7 linked regions of the Homo sapiens genome follow. The protein of the gene in region 7 purifies or fractionates together with the protein of the main gene of each other region. This does not show direct contact. Each region holds a gene or a part of one and is shown on either strand. Other genes may lie near its edges. The genes, in order: TRIM24, SAV1, TIMM50, IPO8, LRP4, SMARCAD1 and ZNF74.

What was found.
Region 1: the proteins of ZNF74 (region 7) and TRIM24 purify together in Homo sapiens (co-immunoprecipitation; one large-scale study listed by IntAct). This does not show direct contact.
Region 2: the proteins of ZNF74 (region 7) and SAV1 purify together in Homo sapiens (affinity purification with mass spectrometry; one large-scale study listed by BioGRID and IntAct). This does not show direct contact.
Region 3: the proteins of ZNF74 (region 7) and TIMM50 purify together in Homo sapiens (co-immunoprecipitation; one large-scale study listed by IntAct). This does not show direct contact.
Region 4: the proteins of ZNF74 (region 7) and IPO8 purify together in Homo sapiens (co-immunoprecipitation; 2 studies listed by BioGRID and IntAct, with this or other methods). This does not show direct contact.
Region 5: the proteins of ZNF74 (region 7) and LRP4 purify together in Homo sapiens (affinity purification with mass spectrometry; one large-scale study listed by BioGRID and IntAct). This does not show direct contact.
Region 6: the proteins of ZNF74 (region 7) and SMARCAD1 purify together in Homo sapiens (co-immunoprecipitation; one large-scale study listed by IntAct). This does not show direct contact.

Annotation. Positions count from the first base shown.
Region 1 is NC_000007.14:138,578,485-138,582,713, forward strand, and holds part of TRIM24 (transcription intermediary factor 1-alpha), read left to right. Parts: intron 1-719; coding exon 720-1,048; intron 1,049-2,077; coding exon 2,078-2,210; intron 2,211-3,212; coding exon 3,213-3,287; intron 3,288-4,229. UniProt on the Homo sapiens protein: Transcriptional coactivator that interacts with numerous nuclear receptors and coactivators and modulates the transcription of target genes.
Region 2 is NC_000014.9:50,640,373-50,644,601, reverse strand, and holds part of SAV1 (protein salvador homolog 1), read left to right. Parts: intron 1-3,708; coding exon 3,709-3,852; intron 3,853-4,229. UniProt on the Homo sapiens protein: Regulator of STK3/MST2 and STK4/MST1 in the Hippo signaling pathway which plays a pivotal role in organ size control and tumor suppression by restricting proliferation and promoting apoptosis.
Region 3 is NC_000019.10:39,486,927-39,491,155, reverse strand, and holds part of TIMM50 (mitochondrial import inner membrane translocase subunit TIM50), read right to left. Parts: intron 3,096-4,229; coding exon 2,939-3,095; intron 2,618-2,938; coding exon 2,511-2,617; intron 1,438-2,510; coding exon 1,336-1,437; 3' UTR 1-1,335. UniProt on the Homo sapiens protein: Essential component of the TIM23 complex, a complex that mediates the translocation of transit peptide-containing proteins across the mitochondrial inner membrane. Has some phosphatase activity in vitro; however such activity may not be relevant in vivo.
Region 4 is NC_000012.12:30,667,919-30,672,147, forward strand, and holds part of IPO8 (importin-8), read right to left. Parts: intron 3,179-4,229; coding exon 3,044-3,178; intron 1,365-3,043; coding exon 1,265-1,364; intron 1-1,264. UniProt on the Homo sapiens protein: Involved in nuclear protein import, either by acting as autonomous nuclear transport receptor or as an adapter-like protein in association with the importin-beta subunit KPNB1.
Region 5 is NC_000011.10:46,876,952-46,881,180, reverse strand, and holds part of LRP4 (low-density lipoprotein receptor-related protein 4 precursor), read left to right. Parts: intron 1-1,865; coding exon 1,866-2,055; intron 2,056-2,142; coding exon 2,143-2,274; intron 2,275-3,841; coding exon 3,842-3,982; intron 3,983-4,229. UniProt on the Homo sapiens protein: Mediates SOST-dependent inhibition of bone formation. Functions as a specific facilitator of SOST-mediated inhibition of Wnt signaling.
Region 6 is NC_000004.12:94,245,490-94,249,718, reverse strand, and holds part of SMARCAD1 (SWI/SNF-related matrix-associated actin-dependent regulator of chromatin subfamily A containing DEAD/H box 1), read right to left. Parts: exon of another isoform or gene 1,166-4,229; intron 66-1,165; coding exon 1-65. UniProt on the Homo sapiens protein: DNA helicase that possesses intrinsic ATP-dependent nucleosome-remodeling activity and is both required for DNA repair and heterochromatin organization.
Region 7 is NC_000022.11:20,400,320-20,404,548, reverse strand, and holds part of ZNF74 (zinc finger protein 74), read right to left. Parts: intron 3,918-4,229; coding exon 3,791-3,917; intron 3,273-3,790; coding exon 3,177-3,272; intron 1-3,176. UniProt on the Homo sapiens protein: May play a role in RNA metabolism.

The sequences.
Region 1 (4,229 bases), on a different chromosome or scaffold from region 7:
ATCAAAACTAAGTTAAAGGGATGGGGTGAATGGTGGTGGTGGTGGTTTTGTGTGTGTGTGTGTGTGTGTGTGTGTGTGTGCGCGCACGCACGAATGGAAGCAGGACGGGGTTGGAGAATCAGAATGTAAAAACCTAATCTCCTGATCTTCACTAGTAAGGATTATAGATGTATTGCAATTTTTAACAATCATTTTATTTAGAAATATGGAGGTAAACAGCAGAAGAAAAAGCTAGGTTTGAAAATAGTTCTTCCAAGGAATAAGTGCTTTTAACTATATCTACATTTATTACTTTGAAATTTTTGAAAACATTTGAAGGAGATTGTTTTTGTTATTGATTTGAAATTTTCACCATCCTGGGCTTCAACAGAAAGTTTAGATTCATCTTATAATTTTTGTATCTTAGGTATAATTTGAATGAACAGCTCCAGTGAGGTATATATATATATATATAGGTCATGTGGTTGACTTCCACTCTACCCAACCCATTCTCTAATTTCTGTAGCCATCCCCAGACTTAGATTTTTTCTCTATTTATTTTGGTATTTTTTAGTAGAGGTTCATGTCTTCTAAGCCAGTTAGCAATAAACATATACCCTTCTCCTGAAGATTCCTTTGAAGCAGCCAGGTGCTCACCAGAGAGTGGTCTACAGTTCAGAATTGCATTAGTGATAAAATTTTTTTTAAAGCCAGTTAAATATATTTTTTTTCTACTACAGGCCAATTATCCAAGAAGCATACTCACCTCCCTGCTCTTAAATAGCAGTCAGAGCTCTACTTCTGAGGAGACTGTGCTAAGATCAGATGCCCCTGATAGTACAGGAGATCAACCTGGACTTCACCAGGACAATTCCTCAAATGGAAAGTCTGAATGGTTGGATCCTTCCCAGAAGTCACCTCTTCATGTTGGAGAGACAAGGAAAGAGGATGACCCCAATGAGGACTGGTGTGCAGTTTGTCAAAACGGAGGGGAACTCCTCTGCTGTGAAAAGTGCCCCAAAGTATTCCATCTTTCTTGTCATGTGCCCACATTGACAAATTTTCCAAGGTAAGATAGTACTTCCCTTCCCACATTCTTTTACTGTAAACTTTTGAAGATTATTTTAACAGAAAGCCTTTGAAAAAACTTAAATGAAATTCCACTTGGCACAAGTGTATACTCCAAAATCCCAATGAATAGTCTAGGTTTTCCCATACCCTTCCGCTTATTCTTTGTGCTTCTTTCAAAAAACTAATCATTCAGCCTGAGCAACACAGGGAGACCCTGTCTGTCTGTACAAAATAAAAAATTAGCCGGGTATGGTAGTGCATGCCTGTAGTCCCAGCTACTCAGGAGGCTGAGGTGGGAGGATTGGTTGAGCCTGAGAGGTCAAGGCTGCAGTAAGCTGTGCTTGCACCACTGCACCCCAGACTGGGCAACAGAGCAAGACCCTCTCCCTAGTCATTACAAAAAGAAAAAAAAATAACAGGCCCTTTAAATTATCACAAGGGATCATCATAAGGAACAATGTCCCTATGCATAACAGCTACCACAGTTTATTATGTCTTTTTGCCAGGCATCGAACTGTATCTTTTACAAGTATTTCAAGTAAATTCTCATACCCTATGGGGATGATGATCATCATCATGACCAAGATGGTTAAGAGCCATTGGGTTGATCTCTCAGTTCTTGGAAGGCCATACTTTTGAAAATTTAATTTTATAAACTTAAGAGTAACAAGAATAGTACAAAGAGCTTTTCTAGTTCCTGAATCCTTTGGAGGAAAAAAATTCAATTATGCCCTAGATATGTGAGCCCTAGATTAAATTTGTTTAGGTGTTTCTTTTTTTTCAATATATGTATCTCACACCTTCTTAACTAGATTTTGATGTTTGTTAGGCCCTTGCATTATATTTCTGCTGTTTCCTCTCAGCATGGTGCAGTATACCTAGTGGTATGTGGTAAATGCTCAGTGATTAAAATTCATGCCAAATGAACAATTCTGTATCATAGATGTCATGGAGGAGGTGGGAAAGGGAAATAGTGAAGAGAGGAAATGATGCATTAGGAATTCAAAAGTACATTGTCCCCTAACAGTGGAGAGTGGATTTGCACTTTCTGCCGAGACTTATCTAAACCAGAAGTTGAATATGATTGTGATGCTCCCAGTCACAACTCAGAAAAAAAGAAAACTGAAGGCCTTGTTAAGTTAACACCTATAGATAAAAGGGTAAGTCTTTGGTAAGATGCATTATTGTATTGTAGTGCAATATTGTACTGTGGTACCTTTTGTCAAAGAGGTGTATATCCATCCAGATTTTATACTGATCCTTTTTATTTAAGAGTATTTTTTTTTGTTTACAAAGGTACATGAATCTTAAAGACTGTAACTTTCTTTAAATTAAAAAAATCACAGAATTAATGCATGTATTTTATAGAAGCTTATTGTACCTGAACAAGATGGAATATGTACCCTAGACTTTTAATCTACCTTAAGTAAATTTCTATTTTGTTTTATTTCCTACTATAGATAAGATTTTTCCTTAGAACTGCCACCAAGGAGCTGGGTTTTTTCTTTACTCTTCCTGGAAATAATTCCTTTTTTTTCACTGAATGGGACTAGACTTATGCATCAAAGCCAACTGATATATTTAACTGTAAATAACATTTAAAGCTACCAAGTCAACACTTTGTTACCAAAAAAACTCCTTTGCTAAATTATTAAGTAGAACAGTCAATATGAAAGTTGTCATGCAAGAGGGGACGTGCCCATTCACTGCCAGTACTACTCAGTGGTTACTGGGATAAACCCATAAAGCAGGGAAGTATATGAATAGCAGAGCACATGGTTGGACCTTCGGCATGCAGAAAGGTGCCTTAGGTCTGGATGCATATTGAGAAGGTCCACCTCCAGTTCTCCTAAGAGACGTACGTTCTTCCTTTATAGACTATTACTAATTTATAATACACAGACTGGAGCAATAAGTGCAAATTTATTGTTAGAAAACTTCAAATGGTTTTCTAGTGATTGTCTTAGTTCATTCAATTACAGGGCCTGTTCCCAAATATTGGGAAGGAGAGCAAAACTCCGAGAATCAGTAATTTTTTTGTATTCATCTGGGTTTTAATTTTTAGTCTGACACTTTGGGACCTCTGAGATTGTTATTTAAAATAAGCTGTGAATTCATTGTTTTATAATATTTTATCTCAGTTTTTATTTATTTTTGCTTAGAAGTGTGAGCGCCTACTTTTATTTCTTTACTGCCATGAAATGAGCCTGGCTTTTCAAGACCCTGTTCCTCTAACTGTAAGTATTAATGTCATTTTCTGCATGTTTACACAGTGGAATGCTTTTCTGGAATTTTATGAGAATCTAGCTTATATTACCATTTTTCAGTACTTTTTAATATCTAAACCTTAAATCTTAATAATACATACTGAATGCTTTGATCCTATGTAGGTACATTTTAGTAAGTGGCCCAAAACTTCTGTTCATTTCTCAGGTATTCTTTCTTCTTTCTTTTCTCATCTATTTTACTTACCACTGGGATGTTTAGGGTGATTTCTGTTAATTTTCTGTATTTCAGGAGTTTTAGGCATGTTTCCGAAGCTGTTGGAAAAAAAACTTTGAAATAAAGACATCTCTCCCTGCTACATTTTCCGTACTTATTTTTCTTTATAGGTCCAGACTTCAAGTAAATAAGTAGACGTTACCAATACAAAAAAAGTTGAGGAAGTATGTGCGCAGGTGCTATTGACTTCAGAAAGGTTCATATTGAAAGTTTGATGTGACTGTGGCCGGGCGCGGTGGCTCACGCCTATAATCCCAGCACTTTGGGAGGCCGAGGCGGGCGGATCACGAGGTCAGGAGATAGAGACCATCCTGGCTAACACGGTGAAACCCCGTCTCTACTAAAAATACAAAAAATTAGCCAGGTGTGGTGGCAGGCGCCTGTAGTCCCAGCTACTCGGGAGGCTGAGGCAGGAGAGTGGCGTGAACCTGGGAGGCGGAGCTTGCAGTGAGCCGAGATCATGCCACTGCACTCCAGCCTGGGCAAAAGAGCAAGACTCCGTCTCAAAAAAAAAAAAAAAAAAGTTTGATGTGACTTTAACGCATAATTTTAGAGTGCTGGAAAGGGCCTGGTACCCCAAAAGAGTATTCTTCTAATGTCTGAACCCCGGAGGCGGAGGTTGCAGTGAGCCGAGATTGCGCCATTGCTCTCCAGCCTGGGCAACAAGAGCAAAACTC
Region 2 (4,229 bases), on a different chromosome or scaffold from region 7:
GACATACATTTAGTAATAAATGACTTTAATAAGTTAAAAAAATACTTTTCTCTTTAAAAAAACCTCAAAAACAAGATCATTGTTCTTATGATCAGATTCTGCTGTAGTAATGCCAGAATGTTTTTGTTATAGGTGTCCAGAAAATTAAATAATTAAAGCTTCTGCCTTCTTACACTTAAATTTTTACAAATAATAACAGACCTACCCCCTAAGTCAGAATGTACAATTGAATTATAACATTTTGCTGTTTATTCTATTTCAGACATGATTGTATGTTCTGTTTCTTGCTATTACTAGACAAGAAAGTGAAAATTGGGACTGAACAAAACATCCCATTTCTGTTTAATAAATATAGCCAGTAATTCTTTGTGCTGTTTTGATTGATACTGGGCTGGGTAGATCTGCTTTGTTGCCAGACTTTTAGCCCTGTGCTGCCTGATAGCCAGTTGTCACGTGTGGCTGTTGAGCCCTTGAATGTGATTAATATAAATTGAGATGTGCTGTAAGTGTAAATACACACTGGATTTCAAAGTACATAAAAGCTAGTATTAGTTTAGTAATGAAGTTGCAAATATTTCAAATTAACCACATTTGAGCTTCAAAAGCTGAGCCACAAGATTAAAAATGAGTAAAATATCATCTGCATTTTGATAAATGTTGCTTAGTGTCATCTGGCATAATACAGTTTTTTGGTTATAGTGGACATTTGTATTTTCTTAGAACCATTAAAATAGTTATGAAAATGTGTTTTAGGATTATCAACTGGAAAACTAAGCTTTATCATTATTGTGTTGTTTTAATTATTTTATGTATTTGGATTTATTAATTCAACTTTGAAAATCTGTTTTTTCCCATGATTCCATGTAGTGGCACCCAATCAGTGTTTATTCAACTACTGAGGTTGTTGTCCTTTGAAAGAATCAAACCTGTGGTGTGGTCATCAGGTGGCAATGATTGTTGCAGTCCAGATAACCAGATTTGAGAGTTTACTTTTCTGTTCGTTGACATGGTTTGGCTCTGTGTCCTCACCCAAATCTCATCTCAAATCGTAATCCCCATGTATCAAGGGAGGGACCTGGTGGGAAGTGATTGAATCATGGGGGCCATTTCCCCCATGTTGTTCTGGTAGTGAGTTCTCATGAGATCTGATAGTTTAAAAGTGTGTGGCAGTTCCCCCTTCTTTCTCTCTCCTGCCACCACGTAAGATGTGCCTTGCTTCCCCTTCATCTTCTGCCATGATTTAAGTTTCCTGAGGCCTCCCAATTATGGAACTGTGGGTCAATTAAACCTCTTTTCTTTATAAATTACCCAGTTTCAGGTAATTCTTTATAACATTGTGAAAATAGACTAATACAATCATCATTAACCTTATGTTATTACAGAATTTTAATAGTTTTTTAAAAGCAATTTCATAATTAGTTAATTTACTTCTCTCAGCAACTTGGTAGAAGTTGAACAAGAGAGAATAAACGCTGCCCTTAAGCTCACATATGTAGTATTACTAGTTGTCTGGTTGTCTATCTTAGGCCAATCCTTATACAAAATTCTTGACTTACATTAGGTCATTTAATCCTGAGAACAACCACCTGTGGTATGAATTTATTATTCCACTTTTACAAGTATGGAGGCTGAGGCTTAGGGATAGGAGGAGTTTTGCTTACATTTACATAGTTTGTAAGTGTTAAAGCTGTGGTTCAAATCCAGGCGTACCTGACTTCAAAGTCCCAATTCTTCTTCACCCCCAGTTGTACTATCAAAGAACATTTTCCTTTGAACCTATTTAGGAAAGAAGAGTTGAAGATAGAATTCAGTTCCATTTGCATATTGATCTTTTAAAATTGTTAACCACAGCATAATCTAACCTTATTTTAATCCCAGTTTAGTAAACAGTGACCTTTTCTAATATACACATGCATTTTTTTCTCCCCATTGTTATATATACACCACATTTTCTTTTTTTTCTCCCTAACTTTTATTTTAGGTTCAGGGGTACATGTGCAGGTTTGTTACATGGGTAAATTGCATGGCTTGGGGATTTGGTACAGATTATCACCCGGGTAATAAGCATAGTGTCTGATAGGTAGTTTTTCTTTTCTTTTTTTTTTTTTTTCTGAGACGGAGTTTCACTTTTGTTGCCAAGGCTGGAGTGCAGTGGCGCGATCTCAGCTCACCTCAACCTTCGCCTCCCAGGTTCAAGCAATTCTCCTGCCTCAGCCTTCCAAGTAGCTGGGATTACAGGCATGCATCATGAAGCCTGGTTAAGTTTTGTATTTTTAGTAGAGACGGGGTTTCTGCATGTTGGCCAGGCTGGTCTCGAACTCCCGACCTCAGGTGTGAGCCATCACGCCCGGTCCCTGATAGGTAGTTTTCAATCCTCATGCTTCTCCCATCCTCTGCCCGCAAGTAGGCCTCAATGTTTATTGTTCCCTTCTTTGTGTCCATGTGTACTCAGTGTTTAGCTCCTACCTATCAACATGTGGTATTAGTTTTCTCTTCCTGCATTAATTCACTTAGGATAATGGCCTCCAGTTCCATCAGTGTTGCTGCAGACTACATGCTCTTGTTCTTTTTTATGGCTGGGTAGTATTCCATGGTGTCTGCATACCACATTTTCTTTATCCAGCCCACCATTGATGGGCATTTAGGTTGATACCGTATCTTTGCTATTGTGAATAGTGCTGCAATTAACATGTGCACACGTGTTTCTTTATGGTAGAATGATTTCTATTCCTTTGTAGAAATAGTCCCATTAATGGGACTGCTGGATTGAATGATAGTTCTAAGTTCTTTGAGAAGTCTCCCAACTGCTTTCCACTGTGACTGAACTAATTTATGTTCCCACCAGCAGTGTATAAGCATTCATTTTTCTTTGCAACCATACCAGCATCTGTTATTTTTTGACTTTTTAATAATAGCCATTCTGATTGATGTGGAATGGTATTTATTTCATTGTGCTTTTGATTTGCATTTCTCTAATAAGCAGTGATGTTGAGCATTTTCTCATATGCTTGTTGGCCACATATACACATAAATCTTTATGTTTGAAGGTGCAGACCCCTTTTGGTCTCAAATAGACCCTTTTGGCCGCTTCGAGTTCAGCTATTAACCTTCAGGTGGTTCAGTGCTTTCCTTACACTTTCCCATATAATATCTCCACTCCCCACAGCATACACAGGCTATTAGAACTAAAGTATGGTCTTTTTTTTTTTTAATCTCTGTGACTTAAAATAGGTTCTGATCAACTCTGACTCCCATATGTTCTCTTGAGTTGGTAAAAGTTGAAAAGTTATCTGCATTGGATAGAGATATTTCAAACACAATACTCACTGCTGCGTCACTACATATCCTAACCCCCATTTTCAGCCTACGGGAGGAAGGAAACATCCTTTCTTAGAAACTGTCAACCTTTCTGATATGAATTTACAGCTGATGACTATTTCTTGTGGGAATTTACTATTCTAGTTTTAAGCCTTTGTATAAAGGTTAAAACTTAGTTCCAGCTTTTTCATATCCTCCTTTGAACCTGTTTTTGAAAAGACTAAATACCAGCCAGAAGAAATATCTTAAAAATACATTACCTTTCAGGTGGTGTAAGTCAGTTTGGACAGAAGGCACACTGAAAAATGCTTAAGTATTATTTGTTCTTTATAATTTCTTGTTTAGATTTTAAGACCTTTATCCTAAAGAATGTCACTCCTTTCTTCTTAGTGTACCTCGGTATGATCAACCACCTCCTGTCACATACCAGCCACAGCAAACTGAAAGAAATCAGTCCCTTCTGGTACCTGCAAATCCATATCATACTGCAGAAATTCCTGACTGGCTTCAGGTTTACGCACGAGCCCCTGTGAAGTAAGTACATTTACAACACAAATTTGTTTGAGGAGTGAGTGAAGGGCTGAATGGAGTCTCTGGGCTGCTCGATCCAAGTAGTGTGCCATATTTTACTCTTAATAATATTCGGCTTCTAAGTAATACGTGACTTGAATAAAGGATGTCATAGTTTATAATGTGTGAAAATCATTAATTAGAAATATTAGTTCTTCAGACATTTATAGAATCTTCATTTCTTTGTGTGCGGGCCTCTGCTATTAGGGATACAAGTAAGAAACTTACATTCTCATAGGAGAAGATTAATTTGTAAATAAGTGATACAGTACTTGTGATAAAAGTAAGGACCTGGGCTTGGCACAGTGGCTCACACCTGTAATCCCAGCACTTCGGGAGGC
Region 3 (4,229 bases), on a different chromosome or scaffold from region 7:
CACTGGCTACTGTACTGGACAGTACAGACCTAGAACATGAACCAAACATCACAGAAAGTTCCAGTGGAGAACACTGCTACATATCTGCCTGTTTTAGTTAGAAGCCAACATTTTATTTTTATTTTATTTTATTTTTTGAGATGGAGTTTCGCTGCTGTTGCCCAGGCTGGAGTGCAATGGTGCGATCTCGGCTCACCACAACCTCCGCCTCCCAGGTTCAAGCAATTCTCCTGCCTCAGCCTCCTGAGTAGCTGGGATCACAGGCATGCTCCACCACGCCCAGCTAATTTTGTATTTTTAGTAGAGATGGGGTTTCTCCATGTTGAGGCTGGTCTTGAACTCCTGACCTCAGGTGATCCACCCACCTCAGCCTCCCAAAGTGCTGGGATTACAGGCGTGAGCCACTGCGCCCCGCTAGGAGCCAACATTTTAAAATAGGGAGATTTAATATAAAAATCCCTATTTTAGCTGGGCACAGTAGCTCACACCTGGAATCCTAGCGCTTTGGGAGGCCAAAGCAGGAAGATTGCTTAAGACTAGGAGTTTGAGACCAGCTTGGGCACCAAGACCCCATCTCTACAAAAAAAAAATTTGTTTAAATTAGCTGGGTATGGTAGCACGCACCTGTAGTCCCCAGGAGGGTACTCAGGAGGCTGAGGCAGGAGGGTCACTTGGAGATCACTTGAGCCGGGAGGTCAAGGCTGTTGTAAGCTAAGATCACATCAATGCACTCCAGCCTGGGCAACAGTGAGACCCTGTCTCAAAAAAAAAAAAAAAATATTCCCAAGTTCTTGCTTCTTTTGAACAACTGGCGTGTCAAGCAACTCCAGGCCCCCTTTACCCCAGGGCCACACTGGCTGGAGCCAACCAGCAGCTGGCCTGTTGAGAGGGGTAATCTCTGGTCCACCAGAGGCCCACTAGGCCCATAACACATTCTCTCCACAGTAGCCTGGCAGCTACCTGTCTTTAAAGCCAAGTGCCATCCTCTCTTCCCTTCTCCACAGATGAGGAGTCTGTGGTCAGAGGGAGATGTATTTTTCACAGATCACGCAACACACAGGAAGACACAGCGAGGGTTTTTAGATTCCGAGACCAGGGTGAAAAATCTGCTCTGATCCAACAAAGCACCCCCACTGTGCTTGGCAGCCGATCAGCCACTGTGGGACGATGACCCAAGAGTCCCGGACCTCACCCTGATGCCCCCATCTGGAGACTCTCGGGACACAGCAGGTGTGGCGTCTGGGATGTACTTTATTGGACAAGTGGTGGCCCAAGTCTTGGTCTGGAAGCACTGGGGCCCTGGACCCAGGCACTGAGTTTGAGGAGGCCCAGAGTTCAGGGCTGTTTGGAGCGAGGCCACAAGCGGCTGGTGAGGGAGCCAAGGAAGAGGTTCTGCTTGTTGGACTTGGAGAGCTCGGCCAGGCGCTGCTGCTCCTCCTGGGGTAGGGGGACAGTTGGAGGAGAGGGTCAGCGCAAGGTGGACAGAGCCTCCTCCCAGATGCCCAGGTCCCCAGGCCTCAGCCCAGGGACCACCTTTCCTTCTGACTTCTGCCAAGTCCAGACCCCTTTCCCCAAACCCTGGGGCCCCCAGCCCAGACACAAGGGACCCTAGACCCCAGTCCCCCCACCCCAGACACTAGGAAGAGCCAGCTCTGAGCCGCAGGAGCCTAGGCTTCAATGTTTGGGGGACGACAGACTCCAATACTAGGCACTCGAGGTATTCAGGCCTGAACTGCAGTAGGTTCTCAGGCCCCAGACTGTCATAATCTCCTTCCCCAGATCCCAGGGACCCCTCCCCTGAGCCTGAGATCCTATCGCAGACCCTGTTACCCCAAGGTGAATGCTGGTGAGATCCCAGGTCCAAACCCCATGGCCCTCCTCACCAGACTGCATCATCCTGCCCCTGGGCCCTCTGAGCCCCATGACCCCTCTCTGGATGCAGGGGTGGGGGGTTCCCTGGGGGGTCCCCAGGCCCAAATCTCTAGGGACTTCTCTGGGCACTCAGGGGCTCCCAACTCTAGGAACCTAACCTAGAATCTGGTGAACCTCAGCCTAGACCCCTGGGAATCTTACCCAGACGCAATCCATACTCTCAGTCCCACTTCCAAATTACCAGGGTCCCACCAAGACTATCACATCTCTCCCCACAGCCTTGGGCCACGTGCCCAGGGAGCCTCTTTCCAGGCCTGATCTAAAACCCACAATCCACCTCCACAAGGTGCCCCCAGACCTACTCAAGACCATCAAGGGCAACCCCTCTCCCAGCCTAATCTCAAATCCTCTCCTGTTTCCTGTTCTCAGAGCAGGCTGCAGAATCAATGCATCCCCTCATTCTGGCAGCCCTACAGGACAGGCTGTGTTATATCCCCCTGGTTACAGAGACTGAGGCAGAGAGGAGGTATCTGCTCAGGGTCACACAGCCAAACCAAGAGTGTGGAGATGGACTGCCCCAGGCTCCTCCTTCAGGAGCCTCAGAGCCGATCCTCCACTCTGGGCATCTGAGCACCAACCTGCTCTAGCCGGCTTTGCCGCTGTTTGAAAGCCGCCAGCGGGTCATCCTCCAGGGCATAGTGCTCCAGCACGGTTCGCACGTCCTCCACACCATTCAGTGCAATGGCTGTGGGCACAACAGGGGGTGGTCAGCCAGGCTTCTAAAGGCCAGAGGGAGGCAGGGCCCATGAGGGGAACGTCCCGCACTGGGGCACGGGGGCAGTCAGTGCTACCTGGAATGCTTCTGAACGCTCTGAAAGGGCTCCCCTGAACATCCCCAAGTATCCCCCAAACATTCCATGAACATCCTAAGAAGCTCCTAAAGACTCCAAGGTGCTCAGGCACCTCTTGCACCTCAGTCGCCCAGCCATGAATCATGCATTTATCCTTCCTCTTCAGAGTCAGGGGCTCTGGGGTCAGAGGCCAAGGGATCAGGGGTCAGCCTTACTCTTGAGGAAGGCAGACAGATCCAACAAGACCCGGTCATCAGAGTTGCCGTCCCAGGGCCGCAGGGCAACGCCGTTATAGGGCTGCAGGCGGAAGGCTTCCTTCTTGCAGTCCACAACTACTACTCGAGCTGGGTCCCGATTCAGACATGAAATATCCTGGAAGTGAGTGACAGATCAGGTCAACATCTGTGCCCAACTCTCCCCCCATCAAGAAGACCCAAAACACACAAAACATACATACATACACAGCATCACACATACTGGGATCACAATGGCAGGGCCTCTCAAAGACCGGCTTTGGATGATGGCATCGACCCCCACAGAGGGCCAGGCATGGTGGCTCACGCCTGTAATCCCAGCACTTTGGGAGGCCGAGGCGGGCGGATCACCTGAGGTCAGGAGTTCAAGACCAGCCTGGCTAAAATGGTGAAACCCCGTATCTACTAAATACAAAAAATGGCCGGGTGCGGTGGCTCACGACCGTACTCCCAGAATTTTGGGAGGCCAAGGTGGGCAGATTGCCTGAGCTCAGGAGTTCAAAACCAGCCTGGGCAACATGGCGAAACTCTGTCTCTACTAAAAATACAAAAAATTAGCTGGGTGTGGTGGTGTGTGCTTGTAGTCCCAGCTACTCGGGAGGCTGAGGAAAGAGAATCGCTTGAACCTGGGAGGGGGAGGTTGCAGTGAACCAAGATCGCGCCACTGCACTCCAGCCTAGGCAACAGAGCGAGACTCCGTCTCACAAAAAAAATAAATAAATAAAAATAAAAATAAAAATTAGCCAGGCATGGTGGTGTGTGCCTATAGGCCCAGCTACTCAGGAGGCTGAGGTGGGAAGATCGCTTGAGCCCAGAAGGTTGAGACTGCAGTGAGCCATGTTCATCACACCACTGCACTCCAGCCTGGGTGACAGAGCAAAACCCTGTCTCAGAAACAAAAAACAAAACAACCCCCAGGATATTGGGGAGCTAATCACATAGACTTCTAGACCCAGGGCCTAGCACACAGAGAGGTGATTAGGAAGTTCCCTGGAGAGGGAGGTGGCCACTCTCGTGTTTAACCCCTGCCCAGGTGACTGTGGTATGTTGCAGGTTTAAGAACCTCTCACTCAAGTAAACAGGTGCAGACAGATCTGCAGCCACACCCAGGGAACCACACAGACAGGCACCCAGACACAGACCCTTCAAGACCCTCGATCACAGCCCACGTATTTTGGAATTTCCAAGAGCAACACAGAACCCCCACCCCGACACGACACAGACAGAAACCAACAGACACACAGACACTTGG
Region 4 (4,229 bases), on a different chromosome or scaffold from region 7:
TTAAGCCAGGAGTTCGAAACCAGCCTGGGAAATACAGGGAGACCCTGTCTCTGCAAAAAATAATTAGCCAGGTGTGGTGGCACATGCCTGTGGCCCCAACTACTTGGAGGCTGAGGTGGGAGAGTCACTGGAACAAAAAAAAGAGAGAGAGAGAGAGAGAGAAGAATGGTTGGCTAATCACTCAAAGCAAACTAGAAAAACAAAGGCATAAGAAAGGGGAAATAATAAGTTACACATATGAATAATGATTTTCAAAAGAAAAATAACAAATCAAGCAGATGATAAATGTTTCTCATTGATTTGCTTTTCTGATACTTTGTCTCCAAGAGAAAACAGGATCCTCACTTACTGAATCAAATAATATAAACACAAAGCTCTGTAAAAACACAGCCCAAAAAACTAGCATCTGTACCAGTAGGTTTAGCTTACGTAGCTAGACACACCTGGCTCAACTAAGGGGAAAGCACTGCTTCATTACAGCACTTTCAGCACGCAGCGCTAGATTTAGCAATCATTTCTTTCAACATGTATTGAAGGCATACTGGAGGCCAAGCACTAGTGGAGGAATGCAGAGGTGTAGAAGAGACAGAAAATGCAAAATTAAGCAAATAAGGTAAAATTCCTGTCCTGAGAAAGCTTCTAAGTTGTGGGAGATAGGTATGCAAATTAATATTTTGCTATGTTAAGTGCTTGAGTGTTCCATGAAGCAATTAATACAAACTGGGAATAAAAGGGAATAAATCAGGCCACCTACACAATTCAACAGTTTCCAGGAAGATCCAAGTTAAAAGGACACCCAAAGAATTGGACCACACACAGTAGGGCCCCCATACGAAATTTATTTCCCTTGTGGAACACTTAGTCTCTCAGACAAGCAAGCAAACCAAATTGGGGTACCCCTAAAATATGCAGAAATCCAAAGTATTTCCCACATGAGAACAACCCAATCTATAAATGAGTCTCCCAAAAGGCACAAAAACGGATGGTCCCTGCAGATCAGCATCGCAACAGCATAAGTAACAGATGGCTCAACTTGAGCACCCGTAAGAGAGATGAATGAGGTGGCTTTTCATCTCCCACATCCGACAATCTCCAGTTCTCTAGTTCAACAAAATAACATCAAACTCTCAAAGTTTCAGATTATGTCATGCAAAACAGAACCTGGGAGATTTAATAAAGTAATAACATTTGCTTAAAAATATAAATTTAGTTATATTACTTTACATATCCAGGAACTGATGAGAAATAAAACCATCTCAATTACCAAATTTCATCCTTATATACTCATATGGATCTTCTTGCCACAGCTCTTCATCCTCATCTTTATAACACATCACAGAAAAAATCACATCTTCAGAGATATTCTAAAATGAGAAAAAAAAAAAAACGTAACAAATGGGTATAGGCTATTCAAGTTTGAGGAATACTAATAATGTACTTGTTGACAGCCTTTATGATGTTAGTTTTCCAAACTCTGTGTGTGTGTAAAATGTCAAGTCGAGGTTATATTTACTATTATAGTTCTTATTTTGAAATTTTTTTTAACATTTCCATTTTAGTCCTAAATGTCCATGTATTAACAATATTAAAGGGCCAGGCATGGTGACTCATGTCTGTAATCCTACCTCTTTGGAAGCCCAAGGGCAGAAGGATCGCTTGAGGACAGGAGTTCAAGACCAGCCTGGGCACTGTAGCGAGACCCCATCTCCAAAAAAATACATAAAAACGTAGCCAAGCATGGTGGCGTCCATCTTGGAGGGTCTCTTGAGCCTAGGAGCTCAGGGCTGCAGTGAGCCATGATCATGCCACTGCAGTCCAGCCTGTGCAACAGAGTGAGACTCCAGCTCCAAAAAAAAAAAATTGGAATTTTCTTTACTTCTATTCCCAAAAAAACTAATTTCCTACTCCACAAATGTTTCAGTTAGAGAAAAGTCCTATCTACTAGCCTCTCTGTGCACTGCTACTAATGTCCTATTAAGCCCTTTTAGGCTCTAACAACAATTTATATAAAAACAGGATCATCTCTTACCACTTAATTCCAAATTAAATAATTCTAAGTGAAAAAATTCAGCCTAAGGATCAGCGTTTTCTTATTCCTACTTTACAGCTATGTAAAAATAAAGCCAAAGGTATGAAGTAGAGAAGAAATGTTATCACAACTCACCCTTACTTTACAGGAACACAGCAAATGAAATCAGTATCTTTATTAATTAATTGCAAAGAAATTATCACTATTTGATCAAAGTGATTAGGCAAATAGTTATTAAGATATCTACATAAATCAAAGAAAAGATATCTGTTGGTAAGACGGGTAATAACACTAAAATTCTATCCTGGACAGCAAACAGCAAAGTGAAAGATTTTTCTTTTCAGATATCATTTATAAAATTTAAGAATTCACAGTTTGGGAGAGAGTAGGTATTCAGTTCCTAAGACTGTCAAATTATCCAATTATTTGTATACAAGGAAGTATTTATTTATTAGTGGCCTATAATTTTCCATTCCCATTTGTTCTTTAGCTAAATAACAATACTGAATTCTACCTTTAGGCAAACGATATAGAAACAATGATGCTATTGAACTTAACAATCCAAGAAAATAAATAAAAACCTTGCTCATACCTACAAAATAAAACGGTCACATATCAGTCTTCAATTCCTGCAAAATAACACTACCTTAGTAGAGCCCTGGTAAGTTTTCAAAATACTTTCTCACAAAATACCTCATTTAATCCTAGCAACTTTTAGATAAGAATAGAAAAACACTATGTGCCTTAATAGAGGAGAAAATGAGGCTTAATGAGATTAAGCAAGATCAAGTGAATCCAGGTCTCCCGACTCATAAAACTTGAAGGCTTCACTTTTCTCAAATGCTTAAATTTCTAAGCCCTTTATATCTGACATAGGACTTCACTCATTAGAAATTATTAATGGTAAAATGTATATATATAAAATGTAAAATATAGGATTAGTAATACTAACTTTGTCTAGAAAACCTAATTTAACCAGAGAATAATTTTGGAGAGCTGCTCTCTGACACTAACCTGTATGTGTGGCTTCATCTGCTTCCAGGTTATAGAATGAACCACCCCTTGGTTGAGATAGTTGAATGCTTGCTGAAGAACACGGGGAGCTACATATTCTTTCTGTCTATATTGATCTAAAATTTTTAGTAGCACCTATAAGAAAACAGAAAATACAGACTAACATAAACAATTATAAGGTTAAAAGGGGGAGGTGCCATTTTTGGCATGACCTAAAATTCAGAATCCATAGAAAAATAAACAGATTTGGGAGAAAAATCAATGTTTTGTAAGAAAGCTCAGATAAACAGCTTTAATTATTAGATAGGTCCATGTTATATTGAACTAAACGGTGTCTCATTGTAACTTCCAGGCAAAGTCTAAATTTCTATTCCACTGCTAGCTCTTCAAAGTAAGTTAAAACTCCTGTTTAAAAAATTACAATAACAGGAGCCGGGCACGGTGGCTCAAGCCTGTAATCCCAGCACTTTGGGAGGCCGAGGCGGGCGGATCACGAGGTCAGGAGAACGAGAGCATCCTGGCTAACACGGTGAAACCCCGTCTCTACTGAAAACACAAAAAAATTAGCCGGGCGTGGTGGCGGGTGCCTGTAGTCCCAGCTACTGGGGAGGCTGAGGCAGGAGAATGGCATGAACCCCGGAGGCGGAGCTTGCAGTGAGCCGAGATCGCGCCACTGCACTCCAGCCCTGGGTGATAGAGCGAGACTCTGCCTCAAAAAAAAAAAAAAAAAAAAAAAAAAATTACAATAACAGATCTGACTAAAGAAACATTAAAAACTTCCATACAACAAGAGACAGCACAAAGATGTTTCTTTATTTCATAAAGACTTCTTCAAATTAGAAGAGAAAAGTTGTTCAAAAAATAGTATTGGCATAACTGATTAGCCCCCTGAAAAAATTTAAATTAACTCCCTCAACTTCACACCAAAATAAACTTCAGATGGGGAACTATTTTAACACTGACAAAAAATGATAGCACAGGATTCCTTAAAGAAAACATGGGAGAATTTTCTTTTATAATCTCAGATTATAAAAGAAGGTATTTGTAAACACAACACAACTGAGAAGTTATTTTTTAAAAACTGATTTTTTAAAAACTGATTTAAAAAATTATTTATAAGGAAAAAGCCATGCCAAAGCACCTCTGAACTGGCTCAAGGACCTTTAGGCAACTTTCTTCACTACAG
Region 5 (4,229 bases), on a different chromosome or scaffold from region 7:
CTGTGCACATTTCCTAAAAGCAAGGATGTTGTCTTACATCACCACAGTACAATGATCAAAATCAGGAAATCTAACATTGATCCAATATTACTGTCTTTTTTTTTTTTTTTTTTTTTTTTTTTGGTTTTTTAGAGGCAGGGTCATGCTGTGTCACCCAGGCTGGAGTGCAGTGGCACAATATTGGGTCACTGCACCCTCGACCTACTAGGATCCTGAGTAGCTGAGACTACACGCATGAGCCATAACGCCTGGCTAGTTTTTTTCTTTTTTTTTGGTAGAGACTTCCTGTATTACCCAGGCTAGTCTCAAACTTCTGGCCTCAAACGATCCTTCTGCCTCAGCCTCCCAAAGTGTTGGGATTATAGGCACGAGCCACCATGCCCGGCCCAATATTACTGTCTAATCATAGTCCTTGCCCAATTTCACTACCAATTGCCTCAGTGATGTCCTTTATAGCTCCTCCCACCCCACTTTTTTTCTTTGTTAATCTAGGATCCAATCAGGATCACCCATTGTGTTTAGTAATTACGTCTCTTTTAATTTTTATTTATTTATTTATTTTTAGACACTCACTCCGTGGCCCAGGCAGGAGTGTAGTGCCACAAACATGGCCCACTGTAACTGCGACCTCCTGGCCCAAGGGATCCTCCCACGTAGCTGGGACCACAGGCACCTACTACTGCACCCTAGCTACTCAGGAGCCTACGGGTTTGAGGCCACTCGGCTGATTTTTTTATTTTTTGTAGAGATGGGGGTCTCACTTTGTTGTCTAGGCTAGTCTTGAACTCCTAGGCTCAAGCAATCCTCCTGCTTTGACCTCCCAAAGTGTTGGGTTTATAGGCATGAGCCACCACACATAGCTTTTTTTTTTTTTTTTTTTGAGACTGCAGTCTTGGTGTGTTGCCCATGCTGACCTGGGCTCAGGTGATCCTCCCATCTGAGGCTCCTGAGTAGCTGGAGCTGTGCGCCACCGGGCCCAACTAATCTAGTCTCTTTACTCTCTAATCTGGAACATTTCCTCAGCTTTTCTGTGACTTTATTGACATTTGCATTTTTTGTTTGTTTGTTTTGTTTTGAGACAAGAGTCTTGCTCTGTCGCCCAGACTGGCGTGCAATGGTGCGATCTCAGCTCACTGCAATCTCTGTCTCCCGGGTTCAAGCAATTCTCCTGCCTCAGCCTCCCAAGTAGCTGGGATTATAGGCACCCGCTACCACGCCCAGCTAATTTTTGTATTTTTAGTAGAGACAGGGTTTCGCCATGTTGGCCAGGCTAGTCTCGAACTCCTGACCTCAGGTGATCTGCCCACCTGGACCTCCCAAAGTGGACATTTGCATTTTTAAAGAGTAAAGGCCAGTTATTTTTTATAATGTCTCTCAACTTGGATTTATCTAATGTTTCCTTGTGATTGGATTCAGAGTGTGCATTTGCAGCAGGAATACTACACTAAGTGAAGTCATGTCCTTGAGTTCTCAGTGTGTCTCATCAGTAGACACAGGTGTTGGCCTGTTCCGTTATTGTGATACTTACTGCCATTGTATGGTTAAGGTAGTGTCCACTGTAAAGTTGCTATTTTTTAATTTTGTACTTAATAAGTAATTTGTCCAGAGATACTTTGAGATGATGTGAGTAATAGATGACTTCCAACATCTTCCAATAAAACCATCACACGACCCTTAGAGCCAGGCATGATCAAGTCACAGATTGATAGAGCAAGGCTCAGAGAGATTTTATAAGTAGCTCTTACTGGAGGTCACCCAGTAGGTGTTAGTGGGAGAGCTGCTTTCTGAGTCCACAGTGAGCTCTTTGCCACTGCTCTGTACTGTCAGACTTTGTTGAAGATGACACAGTGTTGGGGCCCTGGCAGGTGCTGATTGGAAGCCAGCTCCCCCACCCATTTGGGCTGACCCTCTATGGAGAGCGCATCTATTGGACTGACTGGCAGACCAAGAGCATACAGAGCGCTGACCGGCTGACAGGGCTGGACCGGGAGACTCTGCAGGAGAACCTGGAAAACCTAATGGACATCCATGTCTTCCACCGCCGCCGGCCCCCAGGTGAGCAGCCCTTGGCTCGCATTGGCTTCTCCGTGGCCCTCCTATGCCCTAGCTCTCCCCATTGAACATCCCCTCCTCTCTACCCAGTGTCTACACCATGTGCTATGGAGAATGGCGGCTGTAGCCACCTGTGTCTTAGGTCCCCAAATCCAAGCGGATTCAGCTGTACCTGCCCCACAGGCATCAACCTGCTGTCTGATGGCAAGACCTGCTCACCAGGTGAGTGAAAGCATCACAGATCTAGATGCAGCCTCTCTGGGAGGGGGCAATGGCTCTCTTCCTTCCTTGCAGATGGGCTCCAATGTGGTCTGAGAAACCATGAGTCCTGCTGCTTCTAGAGGCCCAGGGGAGAGACTCACGGCTTTTAGAAAAGGGGACGGGCCTGGGGAGAGGCCCTGGGGAGCAAGTAGAAAGGACTGGAGGCAGGGTCCAACTAGTTCTTATGATGTCTTCATGCATATTAGATAAAGATGCTCCTTTCTCAAGACACTTTCCTCTCATCTCTTAGTACATTGTCATAATATACTGATTTGGTTGGAATAAGACACTTCTGGCTGGGCACGGTGGCTCATGCCTGTAATCCTAGCACTTTGGGAGGCCAAGGCAGGCAAATCACTAGAGGTCAGGAGTTCAAGACCAACCTGGCCAACATGGTGAAACCTCGTCTCTACTGAAAATACAAAAATTAGCCAGGCATGGTGGCGCGTAATCCCAGCTACTTGGGAGGCTAAGGCAGAAGAATTGCTTGAACCTGGGAGGTGAAGGTTGCAGTGAGCAGAGATCACGCCACTGCACTCCAGCCTGGGTGACAGAGTGAGACTCTGTCTCAAAAAAAAAAAAAAAAAAAAAAAGACACTTCTAACTGCCCAAAATTGGTATAATAAAAACAGAAATGTATGATATCTACAATGTCACAGTACCCTCCTCCTTAGATGTGCCACTTTTGTGAGTGCACAACCTATGTGACAACCTTATTGGAGGGTCCCAGAAGCAGTACCTGGCTACCCAGATGTCGGAAGTCAAGGCTTCTCCCTAGGAGATGCTGCAGGGTAGGCTGCATTTGAACTCTAACCTCCCTGGGAATTTGAGTGAGAAAGGAGCTGTGAACTGTGCCTCTCAGGTTGTGAGTAAAGCCCCCTGGGGTCCCTTTATTCCCTTTCTTTTTTTCTCTTTCTTAATCTTCATGGTAAAGGGTCCTTCAAAGAGAGCCACTTTCATAATATTAATAAAGAGGCATTATTTATGAATATGTGTGAGACCTAATGGTAAGTGCTTTATGTACATGATCTTTTAACCCTTACAGCCACCCCATTATTGTCCCCATTTTATAGATAAGAAAACTGAGGCCTAATAATTTAAGCTGAGAGTAGTGGCTCATGCCTGTAATCCCAGCACTTTAGGAGGCTGAGGTGGGCAGAGGCTTGAGCCCAGGAGTTTCAGACCAGCCTGGGCAATATGACGAAACCCCATCTCTACAAAAAAATACAAAAATTAGCTGGGCATGGTGGTGTGTGCCTGTAGTCCCAGCTACTCAGGGGGCTGAGGTGGGAGGATCGCTTGAGCTCAGGAGGTCAAGGCTGCAGTAAGCCATGATCATGCCAGTGCACTCCAGCCTGGGCGACACAGCAAGACCCTGTCTCAAAAAATAATAATAATTTAAATAACTTGCCTAGAATAACATAGCTAGAAACTAGCAGGGACAGGGCATGAGTTTCAGTTTGCCTGATTCCAAATCCATTTAATGGCTGTGCTCGAGTGATCCTCTTCCCTCCTCTCCACCTGGCAGGCATGAACAGTTTCCTCATCTTCGCCAGGAGGATAGACATTCGCATGGTCTCCCTGGACATCCCTTATTTTGCTGATGTGGTGGTACCAATCAACATTACCATGAAGAACACCATTGCCATTGGAGTAGACCCCCAGGAAGGTCTGTATGGCCCTCTCTTCCCACCTGGCCTTCTGTCCCTGCCCTTCAACAATTACTGTCTTTCCTCTCCCACCACCTTTGTCTCCTGCCAAGAGCCAGGGTGTTTGTTCCCCATTCCCTCTGGCATAGCCCCTGTCCCTGTCTCTCTAGCACTCTCTCTTTGGTTGTGAGAGCATGGTTTGGGGCCCTCTTCTCTCCGTCTCTGCCAAGAGCTATCCTGCTATGATATTTCTGCGTTTTCCTTGAT
Region 6 (4,229 bases), on a different chromosome or scaffold from region 7:
AGTACAATACTTTCCTGCTTTTCCCAATTACTGCTAGATTCTGCAGACTCATTTGATTCCTCTCCCTAATGGGGAGAAAAAAAAAAGAAAACAATTTAAGAGATATCAATAACAATGGTCTTAAGGCAATTATCATTGTATTTTGACTTGATCTGAAAATTATCATCATCAGTCAGAAGAATCCAAACTGTTTCTTTTTGTTTCTGTGAACATTGACATATTTATGTCTTTAAGGATGAAAAATATTGCTGACTTAAGATCACTGAAAGACCCTGATTGCATATCCGGTAACTCAAACTTTATTCTCAGTGCTTAAAATGAGATAAATCTCCTAAAAAACTAGAATGATCCTCAAATTAACTCAATATAATTCAAGTATACTGATGCCTTCTCCAAGACAACGGTAAATTTTAAAAGGATACAAATATCTCATCTATGTTCACTATTATATATCCACCTATAAATTTCAAATTCTGAGAAGAGTTTACTTTTACTTCACTCTTGATTCACAGAATGGCTTAAATATTAATTGTTCAGTCACAACATAAAACTGAAACAATGATAAAAGGAATTTAAGTGGAACTAAATAATGTATAAACCGAACAGATTAATTAATATGAGAATTGTGGCTATACATAGTCTCACTTTTCCTTCTTCTCTGTCACTTAACTTCACTTGAAGAAACTGGTTAAAGTCCACATTTAAGCAAAAAGAAAAGACTCCTTGTGTTCATGCATAGGAAAAATTTTAGTCAATCAAAAAGCATTTTTCTACTCTGCTTAGAACTGCACCACATGCTATACACACAAGATGGAGAAAAATACAATCTTCTTCTTCAACCTCCTTTATTATCCAACAACTGAATTGCTATTTTTCTCTTTCAGTACCTTAGATAGAAATAACTAAATTCTGATACCTCCTCTGCACAATGGAGTAAAATAAAATTTCATAAAACAGAGACCAATAAAATGCTATGGATATCTGGACTAAAGAAGAAAATTGCATGTGTTTCATAATACTAAGTGGTCTACTTGGGCTCAAATGCAGAGAATGTTAATAGGTTACAAGGATGAAGAATTAAACCAGAGCTAACATGGAATAAAGCCTAAGGTTAGTCTTTTTTAAGAAGCAACAGGATTTTGAGCAGGGGAATAATAAGACATACTGGTGAAACCCATCTGGAGAAACCATTTCAAAATCTTCAAAATTCATACTGCCACCTTTACAGCCCAGGCACACTGAAATTCCAAGAACAGTATTTTAAAGCTCACAGATGGACAACAACCAGCTGAGGAGGGAACAGATCCAAGTATCTAACTCTAGACCACTGCTTTTTCACTACATAAGTGAAAACTAAACTTCAGTTGTTCATTTGTTAATATATCAAATGTGCGTCATGGACAAATTGTGGTAAACACATAAAATGGAATATCACTAAGTCATAAAAAAGAATGAAGTACTGATACACACCACAACATGAATGAACATTGTAGTATATCTGAAAGCATTATGCTATGTAAGAGGCTAATAAAAAAGAACAAAATCATGTTCTTCGCAGCAACACAGATGTAGCTGGAAACCATTTCCTAAGCAAGCTAATGTGGAATCAGAAAAATCAAATACCACATTTCCCACTTATAAATGGGAGCTAAACATTGGGTACACGTGTTCATAAAAATGAGAACAACAGACACTGGGGAACACAAGAAGGCGGAGGGAGGATGTGGGGGAAGAGTTAAGGAAAACTACCTATGGAGTACTATCCTTACTATCTGGGTGACAGATTCATTCATACTTCAAACTTCAGCATCACGCAATATACGTTTGTAACAAACTTGCACATGTACCCCAATTCTAACATAAAGTTGAAAAAAGAAAAAACAAATAAAACACATTTTTCTGAAATTAAAAAATAAGAGGCTAGACATAAAAGGTTACATATTATATAATTCCACCTAAATGAAATGTTCAGAATAGGTAAATCCAGAGACTGAAGGCAGATTGGCGGTTGCCAGGGGTTAGGGGGAGGAGGGAATGGGGAGAAACTGCTTAATGGGTATAGCATGCTATTACGAGGTGATGACAGCGTTTGGAACTAGACAGGAATGATGGTATACAACACTGTGAATGTACTAAATAGCATTAAATAGTTCACTCTAAAATGGTTAATTTTATGCTATGTGAATTTCACCTCAATAAAAAAATACATAAAATATCTGGAAAACAGTAAACAGCTCTTCGGAATCAAATATTTAGTAGATGGTGTGCCTATCATGTGTTGTTTGCTCTTGGGTCCCACACTTATGCCAGCTCTGCTTATCCCTGGTGACTGAATATACTCATGTGGTCCAGGAGGTTACACAGACACTTTACAAAAGCTAGCTGATAAAATTTGGGACTGTATCTGTCTCAGCGGGCCCAAGGGATATGATTCGACCCAGTGCTTATTTTTCCATCTCCAGAATCATAGTTGGAACAGACATATTTGGCACTGGCAGAAATCCCATACTATATCAGTTCCCTGACCCATGATGTATGGGCTACTATTATAGGAAACACCAAATCCAAGTCCCTAGAATTGTCCCTCTCAATCAAAACAATAAGCAATTACTACAGTCCTAAAGGAACTGCAGATATTGACACCACCATCCCATCCCAATGTAAGATGCCTCCTTGACCTATACAAAAAGTAGATGAGTCTTGCAAGTATTTAAGAGTATCATAAACAATCAAACTCCAGCTGCAGCTGCTTTACAGGATGTGGTATTTTTGCTGGAGCAAATCAATATGGCTATGCAGTTATCAATCAAGTACTTGCTTTTTCCCCTTTCCCAATTAGATCAAACAGAAACAATCCGTTTTTATCTTGGCAGGTTTAATGATATACCTTCAGTCTTCAGAGTTAGAGTAACTTTCCTGGCTCTCTCAAATAATACAGTACTCATGGACTTAGATGGTTTTGCACAGTCTAGAGAGTATCACTTGATCCACTATACTGACATCATGTTGACTGGACTTGATACAGGTAGTGGGTATTTTCAATGGTACTGGTCAGATACGTACATGCCACATATCAGGGTGAAGGAATAACCATCCTCACTCTGAGGCCCACCACTTTCGTGGGAGTGTAGTCTGGAGCATGTTGCAAACTCCACTCTTAAGAAAAAAGAAAGGCCGCACCTATCTGCCTCTTTAGACTGGACATTGGGAGCTCACTGCACACTGGAGGCAAGATATACTTCATTAGGGTGTGTACTGCTTGATTCATTTTATAAAATACCTCTTAAGATTGTCAGTTATGGCTGGGCACGCTGGCTCACGCTTGTAATCCCAGCACTCTGGGAGGCTGAGGCGGGTGGATCACGAGGTCAGGAGTTTGAGACCAGCCTGGCCAACACAGTGAAACACCGTTTCTACTAAAAATACAAAAAATTAGCCAGGCGTGGTGGCAGGCACCTGTAATCCCAGCTACTCGGGAGGCTGAGGTGGGAGAATTGCTTGAACCCGGGAGGCGGAGGTTGCGGTGAGCCAGGATCATGCCATTGCACTCCAGCCCAGACAACAGTGCGAGACTCCATCTCAAAAGAAAAAAAAAAAAAAAAGAATGTCAGTTATGAATGGGGCCCAGGTTAAGAGACGGCTCTGTACCAGGTCCAGAGTGCAATACAAGGTACTCCGCCACTTGGGTTTCGTGACCAGCAGATGCAATGATTCTCCAAGAATCTGTTGCAGGTAAGGATGTTGTATGAAGTCTTTGGCAAGCCCCAGTGGGAAAATCGTTTTAGAGAGTTTTAAAGAAAGGTCATCATGTCCTCTTCTACTGACCACAGTCAGTTTTGCTGTGACACATATATTTCCAAAAATTACTGCATTATGCAAAATTGTTAAAAATTGCAGCCTTTAGGAGAAAAACTGTTAGAGATACAATGTCAAAAACTTCATCAGTGACATATAAAAAGAGAAGGCAATCTAATAAAAATGATACAATTTTACACACATTAAATAGTTAATACCTAAATACTACAATAAATATGAGCTGAAGTTTGCTTGTGGACATTGGAAGAGTTACAGCTTACGAGTTATTGTAAAGTGGCAAAAAACAGGTTATCTGAAAATGAATGGAAATTTTTAACACCAGATACAGAAGGTTGTAGCTCACTGTCCTTGTGTTATGTCTGCTGTACTAACTTAAAATATAAAGAATAAATAAAATTTCTGTGGTGTTGCCA
Region 7 (4,229 bases):
AGATCAAGACCAGCCTGGGTAACACAGTGAGACCCCTCTACAAAAAATACAAAATTAGCCAGGAATGATGGTACCTGTCTATAGTCCCAGCTACTCAGGAGGCTGAGGTGGGAGGATCACCTGAGCCTAGGGAGGTTGAGGCTTCGAGCTATGATCATGCAACCGCACCCCAGCCTGGGCAATAGAGGGATACCCTGTCTCAAAAAACAAACAAACAAACAAAACCCAAAAAGCTGTACTCTTCCTTTAGGTGAAGACAGTTGCCCTGTGTGCTGGGTTGGATGTGTCTCCTCTGTCAAAGGGGGAGGTTTCTTTCTCTCCTGTACACCACATCTGGTTAAACACTTATTCAATAAGAAGGCTTTCTTTCTTTTCTATCTCTATAGCAAGGTTTTCTGAGCTGGCAGGAGATTTTATTTCTAATTCTGTCCTCCCCAGGCTTAAAAGGGAGCAGTCTAGTGCAGCGGGCAGAGCTGCATGGTGGTGCTGCCTGTGGCCCCAACACATGCAGAAGAGCAGGGCAAGTGGAACTGGCCATGGCACACATGGCAGGTAGCCAGGTGGAGAGTGAACAGCATGTGCAGAAGCTCAGAGGTGAGACAGTAAGATGAAGACAAGACACGCAGAGGCAGGAAGGCTGAGAGGTGACCCTGGCAAGGTGGATGGGTTCGAGGTGACCAGATGCCTGACTCAGAGGGCAGCCGGGGAAGAAAGGCCTTTTGCACAGAGGGTGATGTGATCATATGGTGTCTTGACGGGGGGCGGGGGAAGCAGAGGGCGGGGACACAGTCTCGCTCTGTTGTCCAGGCTGCAGTGCAGGGGTGCAATCACAGCTCGCTGCAGCCTCCAACTCCTGGGCTCAAGTGGTCCTCCTGCCTTGGCCTCCCAAAGTGCTGGGATTAGATGTGTGAGTCCCTGTGCCTGGCATAATGGTTTGTCTTGAAGGTGGCTTTGGTGGTGTGTAAGGTGGTTGGAGCCAGCAGTTAGGGAGGCCAGTTAGGGAGGCCATCTGAATAATTCAGGTGAAAAATGGCAACTTCAGACTGGAACCAAGGCTGTGAAAATGAACAGGAAGCAGCAGATCTAAGAGCCATTTAGGTGCTAAAACTGATGGCCCTAGCTGTTGACTGAAGGTGGCAAGAGAGGAAATGGGGGAGAGGATGAGACCTCAGCAAACACCCAAGCCTGGGTGGATGGTGGAAGCTTTTATAAAGGAGGAGGAAGGGCCAGTTCCAAGTCTGGTTTTAGACATGCAAGCAGAGGCCCACGAGATGGTCAGTGACACAGGGCTGCAGCTCAGCTGGTGTTGCTATAGTGTAGACCACATCCACACCAAGTGAGAGGTAAGAGTCTAGGGAAGTTGCACAGAGCAGAGAGAAGAGGCCCAGGCCAGAAAAAAGTTGTTTTGGCAGCAATAGGGCCAACAACACAGCAGGGCACATTCATCTAAGGGATACTGTGCAATCAGTAAACATCACGTGAGGACGCTCACTATGCCATGGCCAGTGTGGTAGCCAGACTCCGGCGTGAGTGCTGTGCTTCCGAGGGTGCATAAGGCTTTATTTATTTATTTGTTTGAGATGGAGTTTAGCTCTGTCACACAGGCTGGAGTGCAATGGTGCGATCATGGCTCACTGCAACCTCTGCCTCCCGGGTTCAAGCAATTCTCCTGCCTAAGCCTCCAGAGTAGCTGGGATTACAGGTGCTCACCACCACGCCCAGCTAATTTTTTTTTTTTTTTTTTTTTGAGATGGAATTTCACTCTTGTTACCCAGACTGGAGTGCAATGGCACGATCTCAGCTCACCGCAACCTCTGCCTCCTGGGTTCAAGCGATTCTCCTGCCTCAGCCTCCCAAGTAGCTGGGATTACAGGCATGCACCACCATGCCCAGCTAATTTTGTAATTTTAGTAGAGACAGGGTTTCTCTATGTTGGTCAGGCTGGTCTCGAACTCCTGACCTCAGGTGATCTGCCTGCCTCGGCCTCCCAAAGTGTTGGGATTACAGGTGTGAGCCATCACGCCTGGCCACATGTAGCTTTAGAAGTCTATCCGCACACAGAGGAAGGGCCCAGAGGAATCAGTGACATGGTCAGTTATTAGAGAACCGTCATCTCTGGGTGGAAAGATTATGCAGGATTTCAGTAACCTTTCAGCCTCATTTTCAGTATATTCATATATGAATCAAACAAAAATATGAATTTTTTGAAACCTGTAATCTTGTTAAAGAGGACAAAGCAAGCATCAGAGGCTGGGGTGAGAAATAAAGACCAGAAAGCTGGGGCTGCAGCCACTGTTGCAGGTTGGGGCTGGGTGGTATGTGGCAGTGGAGGGGGATGGAGGAGGGGCTGCCTTCCCCGACCCCCGTGTTCTGTGCTCCACAGCTTATCGGCTGCCTTTCCCACAGAAAGGTGTTTCTCGAGCTTTCTAGACACCTAACATGCTCAGCAGTCACTGTCCAATAAATTAAGCCGAATTTACCACTTATTTATCAACCAACTCAGAAGAGAAGTCTACAAAAAGAATGTTGGAGAAGAAAAGCAGACTACCTTCTGCTCAACACCCACCCCAGTCCCCTTTCCCTTACGGAGGGCTGCCATCTTGGCCACAGCCTGGAAGCCCTCGCTGACGTTGACCCTGACCCTGACGCTGATGCTGACCCTAATGCTGATGCTGACTCTGACCCTGACGCTGATGATGGCCCTGACACTGATGCTCACACTGGCCCTGATGCTGATGCTCACGCTGGCCCTGACACTGATGCTGGCTCTGACCCTGACGCTGACGCTGGCCCTGATGCTGATGCTCATGCTGACCCTGACACTGACCAACGCCAGCTGCCCCTTCCCTGGTGGCCCCCTGCCCCCAATCCCACACCCCCGGCTGCCCAGCCAACACCAATGGCTCAATATTTCTATTCCTGCCTCCCCATCCCCATCAGCAGGTGACCATTTGGTCCCAGTGGCCAGGTTTGTTCCCTGTTGTATCCCAGAACAGGTCTCAGCACACAGGCAGTGCTCAGTACGTGCTGAAGGGAGGCAGGCAGGAGGGTCTGGCGGGGGACCTGAAAAGGGGAGATGGAGCCGGGGCAAACTGAGGGAGGAAAATAGGGGCCATAGGAGGAGGTGCCACCAGGGGTGCTGGGGCTGGCACCCTTCCACCTGTGCCTCTGCTCACCTGGACAGGGCCCTCTGGGGACTTCCCTCTGCATGCTCCATGGCTCCTCGCCTCGTTCCAGATGAGAGATCACATCTGGCTTGTGCAGTGGAGGTCCTGCTCGTGGAGAGAAAGTGGGCTGGGCATGCTGCAGCTCTCCAGGCCCAGTCGACCTTACAGGCCGCCCCCTAACAAGGACAATGCCTGTGAAGTGGACACCCTCTCTGGGAACAGGAGGTCCTCTGGGCCAAAAGCAGTGAGGGTCTCAGACTGGAACCCAAATCCCAGTGTATACTCTGAAGACCCCACGTGTGCTGACGTCCTTACTTCATTGCTTGAGGACTGTTCCAGAGCCAGCTGGGCTCCAGGGTCCCACCTTCTTCTCTTCTCTCCCTGCCCCTATCCCAGGACCAGGGGAAACACCAAGCAAGGATGCTACCAGCTCCCACGCTGTCCCTTGGGGACTTCTGGCGTGGCCGAGGCCCCTGGCCATGAGTGCCCCAAGGCACAGGCCTTGCTTCCCACCCCATGATATATCTGGCACCAGGGCCGGCACTGAAGGGATTCTCCTTAATATCTACCATGTAGAAGAAGGCTGACAGCCGACGCCCAGCCTGGGGCTGGGGGGATTTTACCTAGGGCAAGAAGGTTCTGGTAGTTCTCCAACATCACATCCCGGTACAAGGCCCTCTGAGGGGAGTCTAGTTGACCCCACTCCTCCTGGGTGAAGTCCACAGCCACATCCTTGAAACTCACCGATTCCTGAAATGACATATAGGTTCTCACCCAGGACTGATTCTGTGTCCATGGTTCCAAAGGAGCCAGAGATTGATTAAGGACCCTACAAGTAAAGGGTTAACCTCAGGTGACCTTCTCCCATGCCAGAAGGTTGTGCTGTAGACACTGACCATGACTGAATTCGGGGACCAGGGGCAGGGAGGGGGGCTGGGAATTGGCATGCATTCCCACACCACCTTCTAGATTGGGAAAGCAGGTCTGAATAGACACCACAGGGCCCTGGCAACTTGCGGTGGGACCCAGGGGCTGTACATGGCTGTTGTATCAGGCTCTAAG